Linked DNA regions of Homo sapiens. The protein of the gene in region 1 interacts with the protein of each later gene in a pairwise test. Each region holds a gene or a part of one and is shown in the gene's direction. Other genes may lie near its edges.

Region 1 (7,026 bases):
TTTAAAAACGCAACAAAAATTTTTTATTGTAAATTGACAATTTATAATTGTATAAATTTATGGGTTACAAAGTGATGTCATAAATTGTGGATACAATGTGGAATAATTAAATAAAGCTAGTTAACATATCCAATACTTCCAATACATTTCTGTGATGAGAACATCAATTTTGAAATGTGTAATACTCCATTATTAAGTATATGCACCACACTGTACAATAGAACTCAAAAAAAGTATAAAACATATTCTTCCTGTCTGAGATTTTGTACCCTTTGACCATCACTGAATTTTTTTTTCTTTTTCTTTTTTTTTTTTTATGAGACAGTCTCACTCTGTCACCCAGCCTGGAATGCAGTGGTGTGATCTCGGCTCACTGCAACCTCCGCCCCCCGGCTTCAAGCAACTCTGTTGCCTCAGCCTCCCCAGCAGCCAGGACCACAGGCACACAACACCACAACCTGCCAACCTTTTTTGTATTTTTAGTACAGATGGGGTTTTGTCACGTTGTTCAGGCTGGTCTTGAACTCTTGACCTCAGGTGATCCACCCACCTTAGCCTCCCAAAGTCCCAGGACCACAGACATGAGCCACTGTGCCTGGACTAAAATTTTTATGAGACAAAATATCAATTTCAAAACAGCATCAAAAAGTGAGTAGGCCAGGCACGGTGGCTCATGCCTGCAATCCCAGCACTTTGGGAGGCCGAGGTGTATTTTTCTGTACTAAAAATACAAAAGTATTTGTCTCTATTATAAATACAAAAAAAAAAAAAGAAATTAGCTGGGCACTGTGGCACATGCCTGCAATCCCAGCCACTCAGGAGGCTGAGGAAGGAGAACCATCTGAACCCTGGAGGCAGAGCCACAGTGAGCTGAGACTGCACTACTTGCACTCCAGCCTGGGCAACAAGAGTGCAACTTCGTCTCAAAAAAAAAAAAAAAAAAATGCTGGGCGCGGTGGCTCACGCTTGTAACCCCAGCACTTTGGGAGGCCGAGGCAGGCGGATCACAAAGTCAGGAGATCGAGACCATCCTCGCTAACACGGTGAAACCCTGTCTGTACTAAAAGTACAAAAATTAGCTGCGCGTGGTGGCGTGTAACTGTAGTCCCAGTTTCTCGGGAGGCTGAGGCAGGAGAATGGCGTGAACCTGAGAGGCGGAGGTTGTAGTGAGTGAAGATCGCACCACTACACTGCAGCCTGGGCGACAGAGCGAGACTCCGTCTTAAAAAAAAAAAAAAGAAATATACATGATAGGAATTCCAGGAATCTTATGGATTCTTCTTTTAAGGTCCCGGTCACTGGGCGTGGTGGCTTACGCCTGTAATCCCAAGACTTTTGGAGGCTGAGACGGGCGGATTTCACCTGAGGTCGGGAGTTTGAGACCAGCCTGACCAACGTGGAGAAACCCCGTCTCTACTAAAAAAAAATACAGAATTAGCCGGGCGTGGTGACAGGTACCTGTAATCCCAGCTATTGGGGAGGCTGAGGCAGGAGAATCGCTTGAACCCGAGAGGCGGAGGGTGCGGTGAGCCGAGATTGCGCCATCGCACTCCAGCCTGGGCGACAAGAGCCAAACTCCCTCTCAAGAAAAAAAAAAAAAAAGTCCCGGTCAACTGTGGGCACAATGTAACACTTACACACACTTAGGCTGAGTTACTCTCTGTACTAAGCAGTCATGTGCATAGGTTCCTGTGTGTGTACATGGTAATTGTTCAAATCTTGGATCCTTGGCGATCCTTAGAGCCACTCAATACTTCTGCCCCAATTTCTCAATTTCAGCCATTACACAATCAGTTATACAAGGGATACACTTGACATGCAGACAGCCCATCATTGACTGCACTAAGTCCAGTTTGGCTTTTATGGAAAAGTTGATAAAGTTGGTATCAACGAGGATGTGGTAAGGTGGGCCCAGCTGTGTATTATATTGGCAAAATAATCAGGAAAGGTGTTGCGGAACTTCTCTTTCCTTTAACGCGCTGGGATCCTTCTTTTCTTTCTCTTTAGGTTTTAATCTATCCTTTTCTTTAAGCCTCTGATCTCTGAGACTAAGCGTTTGCTTCATGGTTGTATAGTTCCTCATTTTCTTTTGCTTCCTCATGGTCACACCACACTCCTGTTTCTTCCGTAATCACCAACGGTGCAATGCTTTTACCTGGAATACATTTTTATGTTAGTCAAACTGTCTCGTTCCTTTCTAATAGATTCAATAAAGATAAGTGTTTTATTCGTGGATTTAAGGGCATAAATCTAAAGCTCCATGAACTGAATTGCTTATCATGTAACACTTTGATTTTCCTTTTCCATGACCAAATCGCTTTTCTATTCTATTTTCTAATACTAAGTTATTGTAAAACTATCACAGTTTCATATATTCCCAAAACCAGGAATGCGTCTTATCTGAACTTCCTTAAACTCATGATGAGTCAGAGGAGGCCAGTTTTCATTAGTAATCAGCGCCAAATTCATTTCAAAGAAAGATCTGTGTGGACATAGGATTGGTATGGAGAAAAATATGGTGATAAATTAACTGTGTCTCTTGTATAGTTGAGTAATAGAATTTCATTGTCGAACCCTGACCTGAAATACATGTTTTCTTTTATCAAAGTAGAAAATGAGTTGCTGCAAGTAAAGAAACTGTATTAGATATTGTATAACAGAGACTTTTTTTTTCTATTAAGTACTAACATTGCTTTTGTTTCTGTTCCAAACTTTGAAATCAGTGCACTTGGACAAAATGGAAACTGCTTTTCAAGGTCCTACAGAATATATGTTTATAAATGTATTTTTATACATGGTTGGTAATGAATCAGGTCTCTTTCGTGCCATTGCAGTTAGAGGGCCTCTGGTGCTGGAGTCCTCTGGAGGACTGGGCTGTCAGAGTGGGGCAGCGGGGTGCAGCGCGGGGAGGGCTTTTCTCTTTCTTCGTGCCTCTGGTGCTGGAGTCCTCTGGAGGACTGGGCTGTCAGAGTGGGGCAGCGGGGTGCAGTGCGGGGAGGGCTTTTCTCTTTCTTCATGGGGTCTCAGGGCCTCTCTCTTCCTCTCCACGTATGCTCTTCACAGGTCTCTCCAGCAGGGTAGTCAGATATCTTACATAGCGGCTTAGGGCTCCCAAAAGCAAACATTCCAAGAGGAAGCAGAAGCTGCCAGTCCTTTTAAAGATGAGGCTTGGGTGTGACATGGTATAACTTTTATTGCATTCTATTGGTTAATGCAGATTACAGGCCCAGTCAGTTTCAGATTAGAAGAGAACAAGGGAATGAGGCTGGGTTCCTTGGAGGCTATTTTTTTTTTTTTTTTTTTCTGAAACAGTCTCGCTCTCTTGCCAGGCTGGAGTGCAGTGGTGCGATCTCGGCTCGCTGCAACCCCTTGGAGGCTATTTTTAGAGATGAACTATCACAGTAATATACCTTAAAATACTTCATTTTAGACAGTTTTTGTGTGTTCTAGGGGTGGTCAGTTGCACTAACCAAGAATCTATGAGGTGTGGTTGGCCAGCAGTATATAGAAAGAGCTGTACCGCCGGGGCTGCCACTATAAGCACTTCAGCTATGCAAATTTTGATCAAAACTAGGCCAGACATGTGGATGTCTCTTGGTGGGGGAGGGATTTCCTGTCCCCAGGGACAATGAGGCTTCCCTAGGTTGGAACTGGGTGTGACGCAGTCCCTTTTGCTGGCTCTTCCCACCTCCCCACTGCTCCTTTCGTCCCCCTCTGTCTCCAAGTTGGTAAAGGAGTCAGGCATGGTGGGAAGGAGAGCACTTCCCTTAGCAAGTTATTGTTTAATGGGAGCTGGTGGGAAGAGTTCTGTCATTTAATCCTTGCCGGTGGTGCTATATGTAGTGAAATCAACTGCTACAGTGGTAGGGGCCTTAGAGATCATCAAGTCCTACCTCTAAACCATGAAGTTAATCTTCTCTCACCATCTTTGGCACATCCCTCAGCAAGCTAGAAACAGAACTCTGCGTTTTTTCCATAAAGTACGAGAAATAATGATTTCACCTTTAAAAACTGCCTTCCTGAGTAAGTGTCCGTTTGGTCAACCAGACTCCATGGGTCCTAACTTTCGTCAGGTTGTTCTTGCAGAACATGCCAGCAGAAGCATTCACCAACTGACATGTGCCCTGAAAGAAGGCGATGTCACTATTGGAGAAGATGCACCAAATCTTTCTTTTAGCACCAGTGTGGGAAATGAGGACGCCAGGACAGCCTGGCCCGAATTACAACAGAGCCATGCTGGTGAGTGTGAATGTCAATCCTAGTCTGAATGATGCATAGTGAATTTTTTAAACTCCGTAGAATAATAACTCCATTCATTCTTCATTCTGCTGCTATGATGTTATTCCTCAAACACAAATCAGATAATTTAATTCCCTCGCTTAATCTTGTTTTCCTTTGACTTCCCAATGCTTATAGGCTAAAGTCCAAAATTCTTAGTTATAAAATAACAGTGTTTTCCTAAGATAGCTCTAACCTGCCTCTTCGGCTCATCTTTGTGTACTTCTCATGCTAATCATCCATCTCACAACTCATATTCTAGTTATAATAACCTCCTCTCTATGCTTTTATGCTTTGACATGTGCAGTGACTTCTAACTGGAATTTTTCTTATCCTTTTCTGCTTGGTGAACTCCTTCCTGTTTATCCTTGCAGTGTTATCTCCTCTGTGAAAACAAGCACAATTAGCTTCTTCCTCTTCTTGTAGCACTGTGCATAGCTTTAGGTCTACATACAAACTTATTTTATATCTATTAGTGTCTCTCTCTTCCTTGCTAGATTCTTAGCTCTTAAGGGGTAGAAATTCTTTTTTTTTTTTTATGTTGGTCTTGTATCCCCAGTTGATAGCAGAATTCTTGATGCATAATATATCAGCAATTTTTATTAGTTGGAAGGATGGATGGGTGGTAAGAAACCATGGATCTCAAATAAGGTTAATAAACCCTCTGCTTTTGCTCTATAGTTAATCAGCTCAAAGATTTGTTGCGCCAACAAGCAGATAAGGAAAGTGAAGTATCTCCGTCAAGAAGAAGAAAAATGTCCCCCTTGGTAAGTATCAACTTTTCCAAGTTGACAAAGCATTCCTGTGTTTTACTGTATTGTGTTATTTTGTAGTACATGTTGCAGAAAAAATTTAAGCATGGCATACTAATAGTGAAAAACATTAAAAGTAATTCTCTTCCCTCTGATTATTTTGGCTGAAAAAATAGATTTCCATGGCAGAGGGAATCTTGATTTTTTAAATTTATTATTCACTTGGAAAATGGGAGCAAGGGAATAGTTTGGAGAATTTATTTTGCAACTGTTAGCAAAATATGTAATATAAATATATAATATATAATAAATTAATATAATAAATTATATGTCAGAATATATGTAAAAGATAAAGTCATTATTTTAGTAATTTCTTTTTTAGAGGGTCATATCTATTATTGATCATTTTTAGAAGTTACTTAATTATAATTGTAGCCCTACTTTGTAATATTTTTTAAATTTTGAGTGTCAAAATAATACATTTTATTTTTAATTAATTAATTAATTTTTTTGAGACAGAGTCTCATTCTGTTGCTCAGGCTAGAGTGCAGTGGCATGATCTCGCCTCACTACAACCTCTGCCTCCCTGGTTCAAGCGATTCTCCTGCCTCAGCCTCCCTAGTATTTGGGTTTACAGATGTGCACTACCACACCAGGCTAATTTTTTGTATTTTTAGTAGAGATGGGGTTTCACCATATTGGCTAGGCTGGTCTCGAACTCTGAACCTCAGGAAATCCATCAGCCTCGGCCTCCCAAAGCACCGGGATTATAGGTGTGAGCCACCGCGCCTGGCCTCAAAATAATACGTTTTAATATGTAATGTTCTATATGTTAAAATATATGGTTATAAAATAGTATGATATATAAGAAGTGGTGCTGTATTTCTTCTGAAGTTGTTTGTTATTGCTTTGACAGAGTGTATTATTTCTGATTAAAGCATTTTATATGCTAAAGGCTGAGATAGATGTGAGTGAAAGCACTCTGGACCAGATTTAAGTGGACAAAATAATAGTCAAGGGCTTAGTTCTATCTAGGGTCTATCACATACTCTCTAAGATATTGTGCCTGTCTCACAGAGTTTTTGGAATAATGAGATAAGATTACATACTTAAAATTCTTTAGAAACCTATGAAGTGTTACATAAACATAACATGCATAGCAGCAAGTAACCACCTCACATTTTCAATGTGTTTTCTAGTTCAATACAATGCCTGTATGCTGAAAAGTGTGGAGACATGTCACTTTCTTTTCTTCACCACTGAAATATCAGAGTATCACTCCCATACGAACACTCCATTCCAGGCTGACACATACTTTTAAGCTTAATTCCTACTTTAGAGAAATGTACTTCATATGCATATTCTAAATTTATAGATACAGATTTTATAATTTTAGTAAAACATCTCATCATTTAATGAATTTATTACTATTGACATCTGGTTTCTAGCTTGCTCTTAAGCACAGACTGGTGGAATGCTTTTAAATCTACTAGATGAAGTTGCTTTATCTGTTGAATGCTCAGACATGCTTATTTGCCTTTTAAAGTCTGAGCAGTGATATTATGGAGCTTACTGAATCCAGACAGGCAGGAAGACCTTCACTAAGAGAATCAGTTTAGTACATACAGAGTGCACTTTAAAATACACAAGTCTATTTATATGGAGCTATGTAAAAGAATGGAACTTAGACTCTATATGTATACAGCCTACATGTAATAATTATAAACCATAATAGTAATAATTAGCTTTTTAAGATTATACCTTTAGAATGCACTTTCATAGCCAGTATAACATATTAGAAATACATGCATATATTGAGAGTAAAACTGAGGCACTGTTGAGATGGAAAAAAAGTTATTACTTATTGTCTTAAAATGTAGATATCTAAACTAAAGCCCTTCAAAGTAGACACAAATGATTTCATGTGAACATTTTTCATACAATATTGGCTTGAGCTTTTTATTTTTCACATTGACTTCCTCCTGTATACTCATAG
Region 2 (7,026 bases), on another chromosome or scaffold:
CCCGGCGTCCTGGCAGTGCCGCCACCACCAAGCCCATCGTCCGCTCTGTCTCCGTGGTCACAGGCAGCGAGCAGAAGAGGAAGGTGCTGGTGAGTACTGTGGCCTAGGAGTCCGGGCCCCTGCCTCCTGGAGGGCTGTTGTTCAGTTGGCATCTGACCCCTGGGTCCAGCTCCACAGGTGAACAAGTGCCTCACATCTGGACATGCTGGATCCTCGTGGCTGTTCCAGGAGGCAGGTAGGACTTGAGTCTTACAGGCGTGGGTGCTGAATCACTAGAAAGTCAAGCCAGAGCTTGGATTCTTTCAGCAACAGCCCCAGGCCTCCTGTGCCACCGCCCTTTGGATTTGTTTGAATCCTCAGGAAATGGGGTTGGCTGGGCTCGGTGGCTCACGCCTGTAATCTCAGCACTTTGGGAGGCCGAGGCAGGCGGGTCATCTGAGGTCAGCAGTTCAAGACCAGCCTGACCAACATGGTGAAACTCCGTCTCTACTAAAGATACAAAAAAAAATTAGCCGGGCATGGTGGTGCATGCCTGTAATCCTAGCTACTCGGGAGGCTGAGGCAGGAGATTTGCTCGAACCCAGGAGGCAGAGGTTGCGGTGAGCCGAGATCGTGCCGTTGCACTCCAGCCTGGCGACAGAGTGAGATGCCATCTCAAAAAAAAAAAAAAAAGAAAGAAATGGGGTTGACCTGTGGGGAGGGGTGATGAGCTCCTGGTGGCCTTGGAGAAACCTAGACGGGTGTGTGGGTGTGTGGGCAGCAGGACAGCCGTGGGAGCTTCGGGGTGAGAGCTGCCTTTCCTGCCCACCTCTGGGAGTAGGGAGGAGGGTGGGTGGTTCCCAGATGGGGGCTGTGAAAGGCAGGCCGGGCCTGCTGCACCCTGAGTTGGTGTCTGCCAGGCCCAGTCTTTGGGGCAAGGGAGGAATCGAGCCGCTCTGTGGGGGTTGGGGCAGAGCCTGACCAGAGTCTGGCCTGAGCTTCCGAATAGCAAGGGCCTGGGGGCCTTGGCTTCCATGCGGCAGCCGGTCTGGGGCTCCCTGCCTGAGGTCCGTGCCAGGCAACATAGCAGGGCAGAGAGAAGGGGTCTGGAGGGCAGTTGAGGCTTCCCACAGGAACCCCTGGCAGGCCCAGGCCAGGGTTCCACTGTGAATAAAAGGCTTGGACCTCCCCCTTCTCCTTGAAAAAGTTATTCCTGTGTCTGCCCTAGAAGCACCCCCAGGTGGGCAGGGTGTGGCCCGCCAGACGGCTAGCCGAGTTCCGGGGTAAGGGCAGCCGGGCCAGTAGCGGACCCTTGGACCAAGCAGGTTCCCAAAGCCTGGGCCAGCAGGGCGGGGACCCGGGATGTCCTGATGTGTCATTGTGGCCGGCAGGTTGTCTAAAGATGTGGTACGCCTCTAGGCATTTACAGACGTAAGCTGTGAAAATAAAAATATGCTGCACTGTTTTAGCAGAGGGGTAACCAGCTTGGGCTAGAGCCGTCTCTGAGCCTGCTGCCTCTCCTGTCCGCAGCCCTGCTCCTGCGTCACTGACCCCCTCGCCCACCTGCCTTGGCCCCTCCCGCTGTTTCTAAAGCCCTAGGTTCATGGCACATGGGGCGGGGAAGACGCACTCGAAATCGCAGATCTGGGCTGGGCGAGGTGGCTCACGCCCGTGATCCCAGCACTTTGGGAGGTTGAGGCGGGTGGATCACCTGAGGTCAGGAGTTCAATACCAGCCTGGCCAACATAGTGAAACCCTGCCTCTACTGAAAATGCAAAAATTAGCCGGGCGTGGTGGCGCGCACCCTTAATCCCAGCTACTCAGGAGGCTGAGACAGGAGAGTTGCTTGAACCCGGGCGGAGGAGGCTGCAGTGAGCCGAGATCATGCCACTGTACTCCAGCCTGGGCGAAAGAGCAAGACTCTGTCTCAAAAAAAGAAAGAAAGAAAGAAAGAGGGAGGGGGAGGGGGAGGGAGAGGGAGAGGGAGAAGGAGAAAGAAAGAAATTGCAGCTCTCTTGTTGTGTGGAGACTGTTGTAAAAGTTTCCGGGCTTTCTAGTAGATGGTCTTTCGGCGGCATGGCCAGGCTCTATCCGCGGCCGACCCAGGCACCTAACCACACTCCCAGCCTTTCTGCTGGGAAATGTTCTGTTGCTGAGTAGAGGTTCAAAGCCACAGCGAGCGCTACTCATATCGATCCCTCCTTTCCTCGGCTGGTACCATTGCCCGCTCCCGCAGTGTTGAGTGGCGACTGCTAACAGTCCCCTCGTTCATGGAATGTTCCAGCTGTTCACTTCAATTCTTTGAGGCCCTCGCTCGATCCGAGACGGCCCCACCCCTGCATGCCTGTCTGCCTTCTGTTGTGCCCATGGTGGGAGCTCGGGAACTGCTGGTGGAAGAGGAACCCCCGCCAGTGTGTGACGTGACCTCAGGGGTTTCTGTTGTGCCCGGTCCCCATCCTCTCGGCCACCTGCCCTGCTACCACTCAGTCTCATCGGGATTCCTGGAGAGCATTTGTTTTGGCCAGGCATGGCTTCACACCTGTACAAGGCGGCACGTGATTCTCTTCCTCCTGGTGTTTGTGGGTGGGGTGGGGTGCTGTCCCCTGGCTCGGAGACCTTCTCGGTGGCCATTGGCCTGGGGTTTCCACTCTACCCCTTGTCTCTAAAGATCTTCCTGCGTCCACGGCCTGCTGTCCCGGGATTCCCCATCCAGGATGTAACTGCAGTTCCTGCTGGTCTTCTGGCTCAAGAGATGTCGGTGCCAGACTGTAGAGGGTCCCTCTTCCTTGCCCCAGCTGTGTGCCCACCTGATCCTCTAGCCCCCTAGATCATTATTCACTCTGGTTCCCTTCCCCTTAAAGAAAAGAGGTCTTTAAATCCCAAGAGCACAAGCTCACTGGGGAACAGACATCACTGTGCATATGTGTCATGGCCATGGGGGCCACCTGCCCCTCCCTGGGCGATGTTGCCTCCTTCTTGCAGGTGGAGTTTAGGGTTTTTAGTCCATGACTTGATTTACCATCTGAGCATGAGTGGTGCCTTTCCACCGTGGTGTCCGTCAGTGAGTGGCAGCCCCTTCATCCCTCCCCTGACATCCCTTATCTTCCTCTTGGAGGCTGCGAAACTGACCCCAGGAAAATGGAGACAGGATGAAGGGCACCCATAATCCCATGGCCCTGATGCAATGACTGGTGCCATTTTGGGGGATGATTTCAAAATTCCTACCATGTGTTTTGAATAGGCCATTCACACCCACCATTTGGGAAAAGGGGGCTCATTGAGCAGTGAGCCTGTCCTGCCCGACCTTGCGGGCCTCTCCTAGGCGGCCACTGTTCTGTTTCTCCTGCACCCACACTTACTCTGGGCACACAGGCATCAGTGATGCTGGAGATGTGTTGGAACAAGTGCCGTATCCGTCAGCTGCGTGGGGCTCCTGCATTCTCTTTTCTTTTTCTTTTTAAGACGGGGTCTTGCTCTGTTGCCCAGGCTGGAGTGCAGTGGAGAAACCACAGCTTACTGCAGCCTCCACCTCCCGGACACAAGTGATCCTCTTACCTCAGCATCCTGAGTAGCATGGATTACAGGTGCTCACCACCCTGCCCAGCTAATTTTTAATTTTTTTTTTCTTTTGAGACAGACTTTTGCTCTTTTTGCCCAGGCTGGAGTGCATTTGTGAGATCTCGGCTCACTGCAGCCTCTGCCTCCCGGGTTCAAGGGATTCTCCTGCCTCTGCCTCCCAAGAAGCTGGGATTACAGGCATGCACCACCATGCCCGGCTAATTTTGTATTTTTAGTAGCGACGGGGTTTCGCCATGTTGGTCAGGCTGGTCTTGAACTCTTGACCTCAGGTGATCCTCCTGCCTCAGCCTCCCGAAGTGCTGGGATTACAGGTGTGAGCCACCACACCCAGCCTACTAATTTTTAATTTTTTTGTAGGGACAGGGGTCTCACTAGGTTGCTGGTCCTTAACTCCTGGGCTGAAGCGATCCTCCCACCTCGGCCTCCCAAAGTGCTGGGATTACGGGTGTGGGCCGCTGCACCTGACCCTGCTCCCGCTTTCCTTACATTGTTTTGTAGCAGCTGACAATAGTTCATCAGATGATGCACCAGAACTTCACCCAGTGCTCCTCTGGATTTTCCTTATCATAGTACCAAGAGTGGCACAGCAAATACCCTGTGTCTTTGCCATTTTGCATACATGTAAATACGCCTGTAGAATAAATCCTAAAGGATAACTACTGGGTCAGAGCATAAGTCCATTTAAAATTTTGAAAGGGGGGCCAGGTGCGGTGGCCCGTGCCTGTAATCCCAGCACTTTGGGACGCCGAGGTGGGCAGATTGCTTGAGGTCAGGAGTTCGAGACCAGCCTGGCCAACACGGTGAAACCTCGTCTCTACTAAAAATAGAAAAAATAGCTGGACGTGGTGGCAGGCACCTGTAATGCCAGCTACACAGGAAGCTAAGGCAGGAGAACTGATTTAACCCGGAAGCTGGAGGTTGCAGTGAGCCAAGATCGCACCACCACACTCTAGCCTGGGTGACAGCGAGACTCCATTTCAAAAAAAATTAAATAAATAAAAAAATTTGAAAGGGGGCCGGGAGTGGTGGCCAATATCTGTAATCCCAGCACTTTGCGTGGCTGCGGTGGGAGGATCACTTGAGGCCAGGAGTTTGAGACCAGCCTGGGCAACATAGTGAGACCCCTGTCTCTACAAAAAAATTAAAAAATTAGCCGAGTGTGGTGGTGCATGCCTGTAGTCCCAGCTACATGGGAGGCTGGGGCAGGAGGATGGCTTGAACCCAGAAAGTTTGAGGCTGCAGTGAGCTATGATCATGCCACTGCTCTCCAGCCTGGGCAACAGAGTGAGACTCTATCTTTTAAAATTAAAATTAAAACTAAATTGTAAATTTTTGGCCAGGCGCGGTGGCTCATGCCTGTAATCCCAGCACTTTGGGAGGTTGAGGCAAGCAGATCACGAGGCCAGGAGATTGAGACCATCCTGGCTAACACGGTGAAACCCCATCTCTACTAAAAATACAAAAAAAAAAATTAGCCGGGCGTGGTGGCAGGCACCTGTAGTCGCGGCTACTCGGGAGGCTGAGGCAGGAGAATGGCGTGAACCCAGGAGGCGGAACTTGCAGTGAGCCGAGATCGCGCCACTGCACTCCACCCTGGGCGACAGAGCGAGATTCCGTCTCAAAAAAAATTTTTTTTTTTGATAGGCATTGCCAAGTTGCTGTCCGTAAAGATCATTGCCCTAAGTCACACTCGCATCACAGGGTGCCACGGGGCCTGCTCCCTCGTGCTCTGGTTGGCACACGTGCAGCACAGTTTTGGCCTTTACAGGATCCATATGTAACAAAAGATATCTGACTGTACTACCTTTTAGTTTACTTTTTACTTTTTATTTTATTTTTTTCTTTTTCTTTTTTGAGATGAAGTTTCACTCCTGTCACCTAGGCTGGAGTGCAATGGTGTGATTTCACCTCACCGCAATCTCTGTCTCCTGGGTTCAAGTGATTCTCCTGCCTCAGCCTCCCGAGTAGCTGGGATTACAGGCGCCTGCCACCATGCCGGGCTAAGTTTTGTATTTTTAGTAGAGACAGGATTTCACCATGTTGGCCAGGCTGGTCTCAAACTACTGACCTCAAGTGAATCCGCCCGCCTTGGCCTCCCAAAGTGCTGGGCTTACAGGCGTGAGCCTCCGGCGTGACTGTACGATTTTTAAAAATAAACCTTTTATGTTAGTATAGTTTTAAATTTATAGAAAAATTGGAAAGTGCAGGGTGTTCCCCTGTACCGCACCCAGTCTCTGCTATTTGAATATCTTACATTATGATGGGACGTGTACAATTAACAAGTCATTATTGGTAAATCACTGACTAAAGTCCACACTTGATTTGTATTTTTGCAGTTTTTCTTTTCTGTCCCAGGATCCCACATGATTTTTGGGCTGTGGGTCTCAGGCTTGTTTGGGCTGTGAGTTTCTCAGACTCTCCTTGTTTTTGATGACCTTCGAGTTTTGGGGAGAGCTGGTCAGGGATTTTACAGAATGGCCCCCTGTTGGCCCTTGCCTGATATTTTTCTCGTGATCAGACTGGGTGGTGGATGGGTTCTAGGAGGAAGGCCACAGAGGTAAAGTACTCTTCTCACCCCATCCTGTCTGGGGTCCACACTGTCCATGTGACCTCTCACTGGTGATGCTGCTGGCCTTGGTCCCCTGGCCAAGGTGGAGGGTCAGGCTTCTCCACTGTGAGGTCGCCCATCCCCTGTGCTCTCTGGAAGGAAGTCGCTTTGTTCAGCCCACATGGAAGGGGTGGGGAGTTTTGCTCCCCCTCCTTTAGAGAAGAGCATCTATAGAAGTTATTTGGAATTCTTCTACACAGGAGATTTGTCTGTTCACCCTCATTTATAATTTTTTTTTTTTTTTGAGACAGTGTCTCACGCTGTCGCCCAGGCTGCAGTGCAGTGGCATAATCTTGGCTCACTGCAATCTCCGCCTCCCGGGTTCAAGCGATTTTCCTATCTCAGCCTCCTGAGTAGCTAGAACTACAGGCGTGTGCCACCACACCTGACTAATTTTTGTATTTCAGTAGAGATGGGGTTTCACCATGTTGGCCAGGCTGGTCTCGAACTCCTGACCTCAAGTGATCCTCCTGCCTTGGCTTCCCAAAGTGCTGGGATTACAGGCATGAGCCACTGCACCTGGCCCCACTTATTAATTTTTTCAATCATTTATTATAATGGACTCGTGGATATTTATTTTACACTTCAAGTTATAATTCAATGCTAGTTTGCTTATTTTGTTGCTCTCATTGTCACAGCTTTGGCCACTGGGAACTTTCAGGTGGCTCCTGGGTCCCTGTGTCATTGCCCATCACTTTGTCTTCTGAGCACGTCCTTATTTCTGGCCCTATAAACTGCTCCAGCCTCATCTTGTCTATTTCCTCCTCCAGTCCTAGAATCAGCCATTTCTTCAAGAAGCCCCGGTTCTTTTTCTTGGAGAGTGGTCTCAGAGACCAAGGTCTGGGAGCTGGGTGTGCTTG

The links. Proteins that work in one complex are often made in the same cells at the same time.
Region 2: the proteins of SDCCAG8 (region 1) and CEP131 interact in binary tests that used the Homo sapiens proteins (3 or more experiments, as listed by UniProt).

Annotation. Positions count from the first base shown.
Region 1 is NC_000001.11:243,266,019-243,273,044, forward strand, and holds part of SDCCAG8 (serologically defined colon cancer antigen 8), read left to right. Parts: intron 1-1,602; exon of another isoform or gene 1,603-2,155; intron 2,156-4,073; exon of another isoform or gene 4,074-4,086; coding exon 4,087-4,239; intron 4,240-4,959; coding exon 4,960-5,045; intron 5,046-7,026. UniProt on the Homo sapiens protein: Plays a role in the establishment of cell polarity and epithelial lumen formation. Also plays an essential role in ciliogenesis and subsequent Hedgehog signaling pathway that requires the presence of intact primary cilia for pathway activation.
Region 2 is NC_000017.11:81,212,943-81,219,968, reverse strand, and holds part of CEP131 (centrosomal protein of 131 kDa), read left to right. Parts: coding exon 1-89; intron 90-7,026. UniProt on the Homo sapiens protein: Component of centriolar satellites contributing to the building of a complex and dynamic network required to regulate cilia/flagellum formation.